Linked DNA regions of Homo sapiens: region 1 is reported to be linked to region 2. The links are microRNA targets in miRTarBase. Many come from high-throughput screens and were not tested one by one. Region 2 holds a microRNA gene; the other region holds the end of a gene's coding sequence.
Evidence for each region. Region 2 holds the annotated microRNA hsa-miR-7515 (AGAAGGGAAGAUGGUGAC, at 2,776-2,793, shown strand). A microRNA usually pairs through its seed, bases 2 to 8, with sites in the 3' UTR of a target mRNA and lowers its output. Matches are read on the target gene's strand: a 7mer-m8 pairs with bases 2 to 8, a 7mer-A1 pairs with bases 2 to 7 and ends in A, and an 8mer does both.

Region 1: the mRNA of ARL10 is a reported target of hsa-miR-7515. Seed matches in the 3' UTR shown: 7mer-m8 at 4,139-4,145.

Annotation. Positions count from the first base shown.
Region 1 is chr5:176,371,312-176,376,311 of GRCh38, reverse strand. It overlaps ARL10 (ARF like GTPase 10), which reads right to left. Exons shown (of 4, transcript NM_173664.6): 4 at 1-4,590. The coding sequence ends at 4,417. Among named protein-coding and RNA genes, the nearest start is that of MIR1271, 5.9 kb to the right of the region's middle.
Region 2 is chr2:6,647,643-6,652,819 of GRCh38, forward strand. MIR7515 (microRNA 7515) reads left to right here and starts at 2,731; the gene lies at 2,731-2,797. It overlaps LINC03156 (long intergenic non-protein coding RNA 3156), which reads right to left and starts at 2,877. Exons shown (of 2, transcript NR_110497.1): 1 at 2,464-2,877; 2 at 1,465-1,739.

The sequences.
Region 1 (5,000 bases), not on the chromosome of region 2:
CAGCTCACTGCAACCTCTGCCTCCCAAGTTTAAGTGATTCTCATGCCTCAGCCTCCCTAGTAGGTGGGACTACAGGCGCATGCCGTCACACCCAGCTGATTTTTTGTATTTTATAGTAGAGACAGGGTTTCACTGTGTTAGCCAGGATTGTCTCGATCTCCTGACCTCGTGATCCGTCCACCTCAGCCTCCCAGAGTGCTGGGATTACAGGCGTGAGCCACCGCATCCAGCAGCTAACCTTGATATTCTAAACACCACTACTGCTTGCTTCCCTACACTCATTGGAAGTGGTACCCTGACCTTTTCAATTAATAAGTGCCAATATGGAAAAAAACCTGTCCAGGTAATGCCTATGCAAGGAACACTGCCTACACCTATGCTTTCAGGCACCACATATTCAGGACCTGGGAACTACCTATGTGGCTCCAAGCGATTGCTTATATAATGTCACTGGGTTAAATCCAGTAGGGTTCCTTCTCACTGGCTGTGGTTATGCACCCTTACAGCATGCTATAAAGGGACCACATAAAAATAAGTTGCCCACTGGACCTTGTTTAGGAGCTGTGCAGACTTATGGGGGAACATAAGTGACCCCTGCTCAAATGCTACCAGGTGGCCCCCACTTTCCAGCTTCAGAGGGTACATATTAGGTCTGTGGATAATTTGCTTACTCTGTCCTGACTTCAGATCTTGCTGTTTCACCTGATTCATGCTCACCTTGCAAACAGCTTTCCCTGAAAGTCCCCATAATCAGAGGTCAAAGACTAAAATGAATACCAACCTTGAAACAGATGATTAGTTAGTTTCCCCTGAGCAAATATTCCAGTGGAGTTCCTGCGGACTCACTTTTGGCGGCAGTGAGGTGCCAACTGTATGGAAATTAAAGTTAATGCTAAATTGAAAAGAATTTTGTAGCACAGAGATTCGCACAGGTAGAAGCCACAGATGGATGGATGGATGGATGGATGGGTGGATGATGGATGGATGGATGGATGGATGGATGGATGGATGGATGGATGGATGGGTGGATGGATGGATGGGTGGATGGGTGGATGGATGGAAGGATGGATGGATGGATGGATGGATGGGTGGATGGGTGGATGAGTGGATGGATGGATGGATGGGTGGATGGGTGGGTGGGTGGGTGGATGGATGGGTGGGTGGGTGGATGGGTGGACGGGTGGACGGGTGGACGGATGGAGGGATGGATGGATGGATGGATGGATGGATGGATGAGGCCACCTGTGTTCAACAAAAACACGTAATGGAACTTCATGCAGCTTTAGATTTCCTTTGCCCAGCTAGGAGCTTGTGTATGGTGCTGAACAAAACTGAACGCTGTGCTTATCTTTCCTGATTCTACTACTATGGAGAGCTTCAAAAGGCGGTGGTGGCTGCCGCTTCTGTAGATACTGCCACCAAACACATCAAGGATATTTCTCAGGGAAAAGGAACACATAATGTGTTTGCAGGAGCAGCTAGTGGTTGGTTTGCAGGCATCCTGAATGGTAGACAGCAAGCTTAGCTGTTCAAGGTTTTCTAATCTTCATGTTTCTTTTAGTGGGTATCCCAATCACCATGACTTGTGTTACCAAAAGCTAACTAAAAAATCAAACACTTTACAATTAAGGTACTTCATAGTGAACTATGTCCTTAATTGCCATTATACCCTGAACAGGCTATGAGCAGCAGAGCTTGCACGCTGTTGAACTATTTTTATCGTCTGAACTTGAGTTGTTTGATTCCAATCAGTTTGGTTTGTGGAGACTCATATTAAGGGATGCATTCCAGTTTCTTGGTATTACACTCCTGATAGCCATCCTAAGGTCCCCACTGATGTGTTGTAGTCTTAAGTACACCAATGCAGTCATCCTTTGTACCTCAAATGGTCTCATTACGGTTAGAGTAACAGAAACATGAAGACATACAGAATCCGCTAACTGATTTAACATTGTAAACTGTGAGTTCCATAATGAGGTCAAATAGTGACAGAAGGTAGTGTCAGTGCGTGGGATTTTGGTCAATCTCTCAAAATTAAGGGGCTGAGCAAAATGAGGGACACTGTGAAGCTGAATTAAGTCTGGCCTAAAGCTGCCTCTGTACACAGTGAATTGTAACTTAACGTGTAAACAACTCGTAACCTAACCTAAAAGTATGTTCTTCTAACAAGTAGCCGAATTTTAGCCAATCACAGCAGCCAAACCTTCAGTCAATCGTCGGCTGAAGGCTGCTAAAACATGTTCAGGTAAGGCAAATGCCAGACTGCAGCCAATCAGGCAACCTAAGTTATTTTCGTTTCTCTGGCTATAAATGTAGCCTACACACATTGTGGGGCTGAGCATTCTGAACTGCTTTTGGTGCTAAGTACTAACCAGTTCACGAATCTTTTTTCTGCTCAAAAACAGAACATACTTTTTAAACTTCGTTAAAGTTGTCTAAGGTTTTTTTGCCTTCAAGCCCTGAAGAACAAGGAGTTCATAGAACAAAGGAGAAAAGTCTCTTAGCCTTCCAATGACAAAATGAAAAGCTGCCAGCAAAGTTTCAAAGGCTACTCTGAAACCCAAGTCATTCTTAAAATTTTACATAAAAGCCCATAAATCACTTCTTACTGCAGAAAGTGAACCAGCACTTTCAAGAACAGTGATTCTTCAAATGGCGCCCAAGGGCACAGCAGCCACTATTCCAAAGATCACACTCGCTTCTGGACTTCAGAATTTCCCACCCTCCTTGCGGCTTGTTGAACTGTTTTTATCATAGTTCCTCTTCTTACACTGGTCACGGTGTGGAACTGAGGCATGCTGGGTAAATGTCAAATGAAATGAAGGCACACAATCTCTATTCTCAACTAGACAGCAAATTGAGGTGCACAGCTCCTCTTAAAAAAAAAATCCATTTGTGGTTGTTGATTTAGTGGTCCCTAACAGACAACAGGCTCCTCTTTGCCTGTACCGATAATAAGTGTCAGTACAGAGCCAGTCCTTCAATTGGGCTGATCGCCAAGCACTGGAGAACTATGGAATGTGCACTGATGAGAACTCCAGAAATTCAGTCCAACTTGGCTTTCACTGGGGAAAAATTGGGTCCAGAAAGGCTGAGTGATGTACCCAAGGCCATCCCGTTGGCTGGTCTGCTATTCCTGTCCTTAGGATCACATAATACAATTTTTTTCCATCTTTTTACCTAGATTCACATAAGGGAAATCCTCTCCCAGAGTCATTTCTTATCTACCCAGAAGGAATTTGCACCCTTTCAACATCCTGGGCCAAGTGGTGGCGTTTCAGTTCATGTGAATCCATGTAAAGTACTATGATATCGACGACAGCCTCAAAGCCAGGTGGGAGGAGGAACCCACAACTTTGTCTCCACTGACATCTGTATGTTATCTCATTGTCATTCATGATTCCAGCTATTTTCCTAAGTTCCAAATTTTCTATGACTGTCATCTGGGGTTTTGAAAACAGCACCTAGAAACAGAGCCTAGAACTCTGGCCTGTTCTGCTTATAAATTAATAAATAAAATGCAGTTCTGAGGTCAACACCTAGCTCCAGTTGACTGTCGTCCCAGGGACACAGGCTCCTTCCTTCCCCTGACTTCTGTAAACATGGGCACTGGCACAGTTAGTACGAGAGCAGCAGCTTGTCTCCAGATTAGAGGGGAAAAACCCAGCCTTCACTTTTTCTGTTTGGTGGGTGAATATCAGTTATTCTGTAGTCAAGAGAGGCTGGCAGGCCAGGCCTGGGCTCAGGGAAAGGCAGGGAGGTCTTCAGAAAGCTCCTTGCTAGGATGGCCAGGTTCATCCTAGCACTTCACACTCCCATGGCTGGGAAAGGCATCTCCGAATTAGGAAACCACCTCCCTTTAAAAATAATGGCCCTGGGGTCAGAGAGGCAGAGATTGCACAAGGCCACAAGTCACTTAGGTGGAGCTGGGGCTGGACAATGCAGGACAGGAACAAAGGCTTGCTGTGTCACCACTCAGAAGCTGCCCACATGAGAAGGGCATGACGTCACCAGACTGTTTCTGGACTGGGAGACCTTGAGGCTCTAGGAGTATTTCTGACACCTACACTGGTTCCTCAGGTACCGGGACCTGTAGTGGAGGATTGAGCCCACTGAGCATCTCACTGTACAGGTAAGAGAAGGGAAAGCTGGATCCACATTCCAGCCTGGAATGAGCCAGACACTATCCTCCCCACCCTCTGTCTCACCCACCTCCCTGCTTCGGCTTCACGGCCACCTCACCAGGAAGGCTTCTGCATGGTTCTTGGCCTTGCCCAGGCCCTGCTCTTGAAAGGCAAAGGAGGGGAAAAGGGAAATGCTGCCATGTGGCTCTTGCCCCAGGCCCAGTCTGGCAATGAAGCAGCAGCAGTACAACTATGGTCTTGACAGGCAGGTGGCAAGCAGGAGAGCTCCAGCCTAGGAGAGGAGCTCCAAGAGCAGTTTCCAGATGTGCACGGTGCCAGGCTCTTCAAAGGTGGGTCCTGCAGGGGCAATGCTGGCTGCCAAGAGGAAAACCTCCCGCTGGTTATCGATAGCCTGTAGACCCAGCTCCCGCTGCAGCTCCCCCATACTCATGGCCTCGCTCAGGTCCTGGGTGAGACACAGAAGTCCGAACACAGCTGGCAGCATTTCCTAACACACTGACACCCTTGTCGTTCATGAAACACACTGTTCTTAGGCTATCCCCGGGAATATCAGGAAACACACTGTTCTTAGGCTATCCCCGGGAATATCAGGAAACACACTGTTCTTAGGCTATCCCCGGGAATATCAGGAAACACACTGTTCTTAGGCTATCCCCGGGAATATCAGGCCCCAAGTTCCCAGAAGTAGCCTCTGGACCCCTTGGCCTAAACTCAATGCTCTCTCCCTCACCCTGGGCTCTCCTTTGTACCAACCTCTTTTCATTGCATCATTAGCCACTGTTTTGAGACGGAGTTTTGCTCTGTCACCCAGGCTGGAGTGCAGTGGCACGATCTTGGCTCACTGCAACCTCCACC
Region 2 (5,177 bases):
GTCGATGCTGCACAGATCTTTGTCACTGAAAAGTTGCATGTATCCTATAACTGTCACTTTACTTATGCCATGCAACAACCTAAAGAAAGGAAGAAAACGTCTAGCAGCAGAACCGCGACTTTCTAGTACCCAGAGCTGGCGCAGGGGAGGTCAGAGCCAGATGGGGGGCATGGCTCATCCTGGCCCCAGAATCCAGTCTTGGGGAAGCATGTAAACAGGGAGGCTGCAGAAAGACACTATCTGTGCAAGCGGGCAGTGTACCTGTGTCCACAGCACAGGCAGCACGTGAGAGCAGAGCCCCCCAAAAAGAGCGCTGCCCATGGAGGGCTGTGAGCAGATGGACTCTAATGACACCATCCCGTTTCCAAGGTTGAACCCTATGGGAGGACAGACTCTTGCAGCCCATAAAGATCAAGTCATCTGACCAATAAATAAATAAATAAATAAAAGGGAAAAAAAAAAAAACCAAGATGGAAACCTAGATCCACAACGGGAAAGTGACTTGTGCAGGGAACCTGTGGTGCCCAGTGTGGGTGGCAACTCTTCCCTCATCCATGCAGCTTGGCCCTACCTTGATCATCGTCCTTTTTAGCATGAATTTATCAATTGCCCAGTATTTTCAATGGACTATAGAGGGTACAGAGAAAAGAAAAGTGAGAAATGGCATCTATATTCAAAAGATGCTGCAGAGACAGCTCCCCACGCCCAGCCTGCCTTGAGAAAAAGAAGCCACAAGAAAACTCATGCTTACAGCACAGACTAGGTGTTGAAGGCAGGTGGTGCAGAAACTTAGGAGGAGCGGCACTGAAGACTAAGGAGGTCCAGAGACCATAGAAAAGTTATTGGGAGAAGGAAGGACTTGAGCCGGTATTTGAGGAACATTGTTAAGGTCTAGACTGACAGATTAAGGGAGGAAGATCACCTCGGACAAACAGCCGACAGGAGTCTCTGCCCCTTGGAAGCAGCTCTAGCAGGCTGTTGTGTAATGGAAATGCTGACTTTCACTTATACAGTACATTTCTATAAAATTATCAATACGAGAAGCTGTCTAAAAAGGAGTGAGGTATTTTTTCATCAGTGAAGAGGCTGGTTGCATGTGCTATTTCTTCCTAGAAAGCAGGAACTGGGTCCAGAATTGGTCTGGCTTCAGAAAACAAAAAAGCCGTTGCCAAGTCTAGGGTTTGTACAGCTCTCCAGTGGAGTTATGAAAAGCCCGGTTAGAACATAAAGAACGGTCTGTTCTGTGGGAGGCAATACAGCTTCACCGAGGGGAGAGGGAAAGTAAGCCTGTATCAGTCATATTTCCATCCCTGGGAGACCATTAGGAGAAATTCAATTAAAACCCATGACTTCTACCAAATCTCTATGGCCAGTTTGAAGAGACTAATTCTTAGAAAAAGCTGACTCCAGCATTATCTGTCTTTAGCTGAGCTGTTATGAAAAGAATATAAGAGTAACAAAAAAAATGGTATGTGCTTTTATTAAAACAAAACATAACAACAACATAATGCTGTTGCAGAAACTTGGAGATGCTGCAAATGTAGGTCTGTTCTGCTTGTTGGCTTTACCTCTCTCTCGTTCCTTCCTTCTTCCTCCTCATTCTTCATCTTTCTTCCTCATTCTAAGCAGAACATTTACAAAATTCAGGCTTTCTGTAGGGTGAAGAGCTGAGCTTCAGTTCTTCTCTGGGGCAGAATATTAGCAAGGACAGTGAGCTTAGTTTTGACTGATTCTGGCATCTTCACAAAGCAAAAACCAAAGTATTGACGTAAGAAAACTGGATTGGGAGTTGGGAAAGGTTATGACTTAATGATAAAGGAATTAAAGAGACACATTGGCATTATTTTTTTCTCCTGACACCTGCACAATGCCAAAAGATAAATCAGAACAGAAAACATTAAAATTGGAAAGGAACTTAGAGACCACCTAGTCAAGGGATGACAGATTCCACAGCCAGTACCATCTCTAAGGTATTGGCATTGATAATCGCTTCTCTCTGGAACTTTGTGTTGAGTAGGATTCTGAGGCTCAAGTTAAACTCACCAGGATTGACTCTTCTGATCAGAGAGCAATGCCTAGTCTTAGAGAACAGAAGAGGCAGGGTCCGCATCTGGTATTAGCATTCTTTATTTAGTTCAACAAAGTCACATGGAGACAATATGTTACATCCTGACTTTAAACATTAGTTCAGAGAAGAAAAGTTGCTGAGATCCCTGCTGCAGTTATCCACGACTACATAACAAACCACTACCAAACTTTGCGTCCTAACAACAGTGATTTATTATTTTGCACAGCCTTGTGGATAATGAGCTTAGGGTGCAGGTTGGGGAGACTGGTGGTTCTCACATGATAACTCAGAGCTCCCAAGAAAGCAAATGTGGAAGCATCTAGACCTCTTAAGGCCCTGTCTAGAATTGTCTGGGCAGCATTTTCATCACATTCCACTGGTAAAGGTGTTCTTACCTTGTATGTGCCTGCAGGGATGAGAGAATTTTGGCCATCTTTGCAGATAATCCACCACAGTCCCTCCATGCTGCCTTCATGCAGCAGGTAGGTGAGTACTCCACAGGCTTTGCCACCCAGAACAGGGAAGCCAAACTGTCAATCTCAAGTCCCTAATCTGTGACCTGCTTATAATTCTTACTCCACAGTTATCATGGTGAAGACCAACGAGATGATGAACATGTAGCACATATCTGTATCACGAGAATTCCACGAGAAGAGCTCAAACTTTTATCATTTCATTTATGCCTGTTAGCATGAAAAAAGAGGCTGAGAAGGGAAGATGGTGACAAGGAATTGCTAAGCAGCAGGTCACATGGGTCACCCAGCGTGGACCGGCCTGAACACAGCTTCCATGTCCCCACTCTTGCCAATGTTCTCATGTGGACACAGCTGGCTTTGTTACATCAGAATGAAGGCCTCCCTTATGATGGCTCAGTGTTTCCATAGAAATGTCCAAGGAACATGATTATAGAGTCAGTCCATTCATTAACACAGAGGGTTAGGGGTTGGGAAAATCATCTAATCCAACAGCCTTATTTTGAAAATGAAGTTTCCAAGCCCTAGACGTTCATGGAAGCTCATGAAAGGCTCCTAATCACAGTGCCCTTTCCGCGGTAACATGGGCTCCTTATTTAGTTCCATTCAGAAAACCTGAAGAGAGGCCTCCCTGGCCAACGGTAGTGGGGATTAGAAGCAGTCCGTTTCTGTTAATATTTATATTCTATTTTAATAAAGCCTGGCTTCTTACAATCAAGTGCAACCTAATTTGTCCAGAGCCGACACTCCCGAGTGTACAGAATCCCCATTTGATTTTGCTGTTTGGAACGTTATCCACTCAATGGTTTCTCTAAACAACAGTGAAAGTCCCCATCCACCATGAACCTGCAGAGCATAACTGGATATTTTCTGGCCAGTTGGCTCATTGCCTACAGCAGAAATCTTCAAGCAGAAGCTACTGAAACAAGGACACTAATTTGCTAAGCCAGGAAGTTTTTCAAAGTCCATGATCCAGAAACACCAAAAATAGAAAAACCAACACAAAAATAAACAAATAGAAAAGTGGCCCATGCCTGTAATCCCAGCACTTTGTGAAGCCAAGGTGGGTAGATCACCTGAGGTCAGGAGTTTGAGGCTAGCTTGGTCAACATGGTGAAACCCTGTCTCTACTAAAAATATTTAAAAAATTAGCCAGGCGTGGTGGCGGGTGCCTGTAATCCCAGATACTCAGGAGACTGAGGCAGGAGAATTTCTCAAACCCGGGAGGCAGAGGTTGCAATGAGCCCAGATGGTGCCACTGCACGCCAGCCTGGGCATCAAGAGCGAGACTCCATCTCAAAAAAAAAAAAAAAAAAAAAAAAAGCCAGAGATTTTCTTAGATAAGTATGTGGAAGGATCCCAACATCTAAATGTTTCTACATCATGAGATGAAAGGAAATTAATGATGATCTCTTTTTTTTTCTTTTTTTTTTTTTTTCCAGATGAAGTCTTGCTCTTGTTCCCCAGGCTGGAGTGCAATGCTGCCATCTCGGCTCACCACAACCTCCGCCTCCTGGGTTCAAGCAATTCTCCTACCTCAGCCTCCCGAGTAGCTGGGATTACAGGTGTCCGCCACCACGCCCAGCTAATTTTTGTATTTTTAGTAGAGACAGGGTTTCATCTTGTTGGCCAGGCTGGTCTCGAACTCCTGACCTCAGGTGATCTGCCCGCCTCGGCCTCCCAAAGTGCTAGGATTACAGGTGTGAGCCACCGTGCCCAGCTGATGATCTCTTTATAGTAATTTCTGACATACGTATATCTTCAGGGTTGACATACAGATTATGCTTTTCATTCACACAACTTTCAGGTTAAGTCTGACTGGTGTTACTACCCACACACCATAGAGGAGGAAAGGTAGGCTCAAAAAAACTGACTTGCCCAAAACAAGTTAGATGGTGGGACACAAGATAGAAAGTGGGGAAGTCAAGACTGAAGCACCCACCTCCTGGCTCCATCACAGCCATGTGTGCTGATATCTGGGCAGCTAAACGTAGAGTGCTGGAGCCCACATGGGGTGTATGGCTGGGGAATTTTAGCTTTACTCTCATTTCTAGCATCTATGTTGGAAAAGCATTTTGTGTTTTATGCTTTTATTGTATATTCAGCCAGTCAAGAGTCATAGTCTATTTCATTCAGGCTTATGCCACTCACTAATGTCAGTAGAAGCCTATTCGTTTCTTAGAAATTGTAGTGGAAGATGTAGAAAGTACACTTGTCAAATTTGGGCATGATTCATCTGTGAGAGGAACCTTGTGCATGCAAACTCAGTAACAGCGTTCACAAAAATCTGGACAGGCTTGAAAGACAGGCTGAAAATAACATTGCAGCAGGAGGAAATGTAATGGTATGAACCTGAATTCAGAAGGCAACTGCCTAAAGGTGGACTAAATAGGTTTAATAGAAATTGCTTTAAAAACAACCAGGAAGGATGGTTAGCATTAGTTAGCTTTGCAGTCTGCATGAGCTTATGGTATGAAGGGTGAGTCAGAAGGTTATAGCCCCTTAAGCCACAGTAAGAGAGTTTGGGTGTTCTGAATGAGGGGGACACATCTGCTTTCTCACTGTTGGATGCAGCAGCGCTTTTGACTCATTTGTGCAGAAGAAAGCCCTGGGAACTGAGCTGTATTTGAAGAATG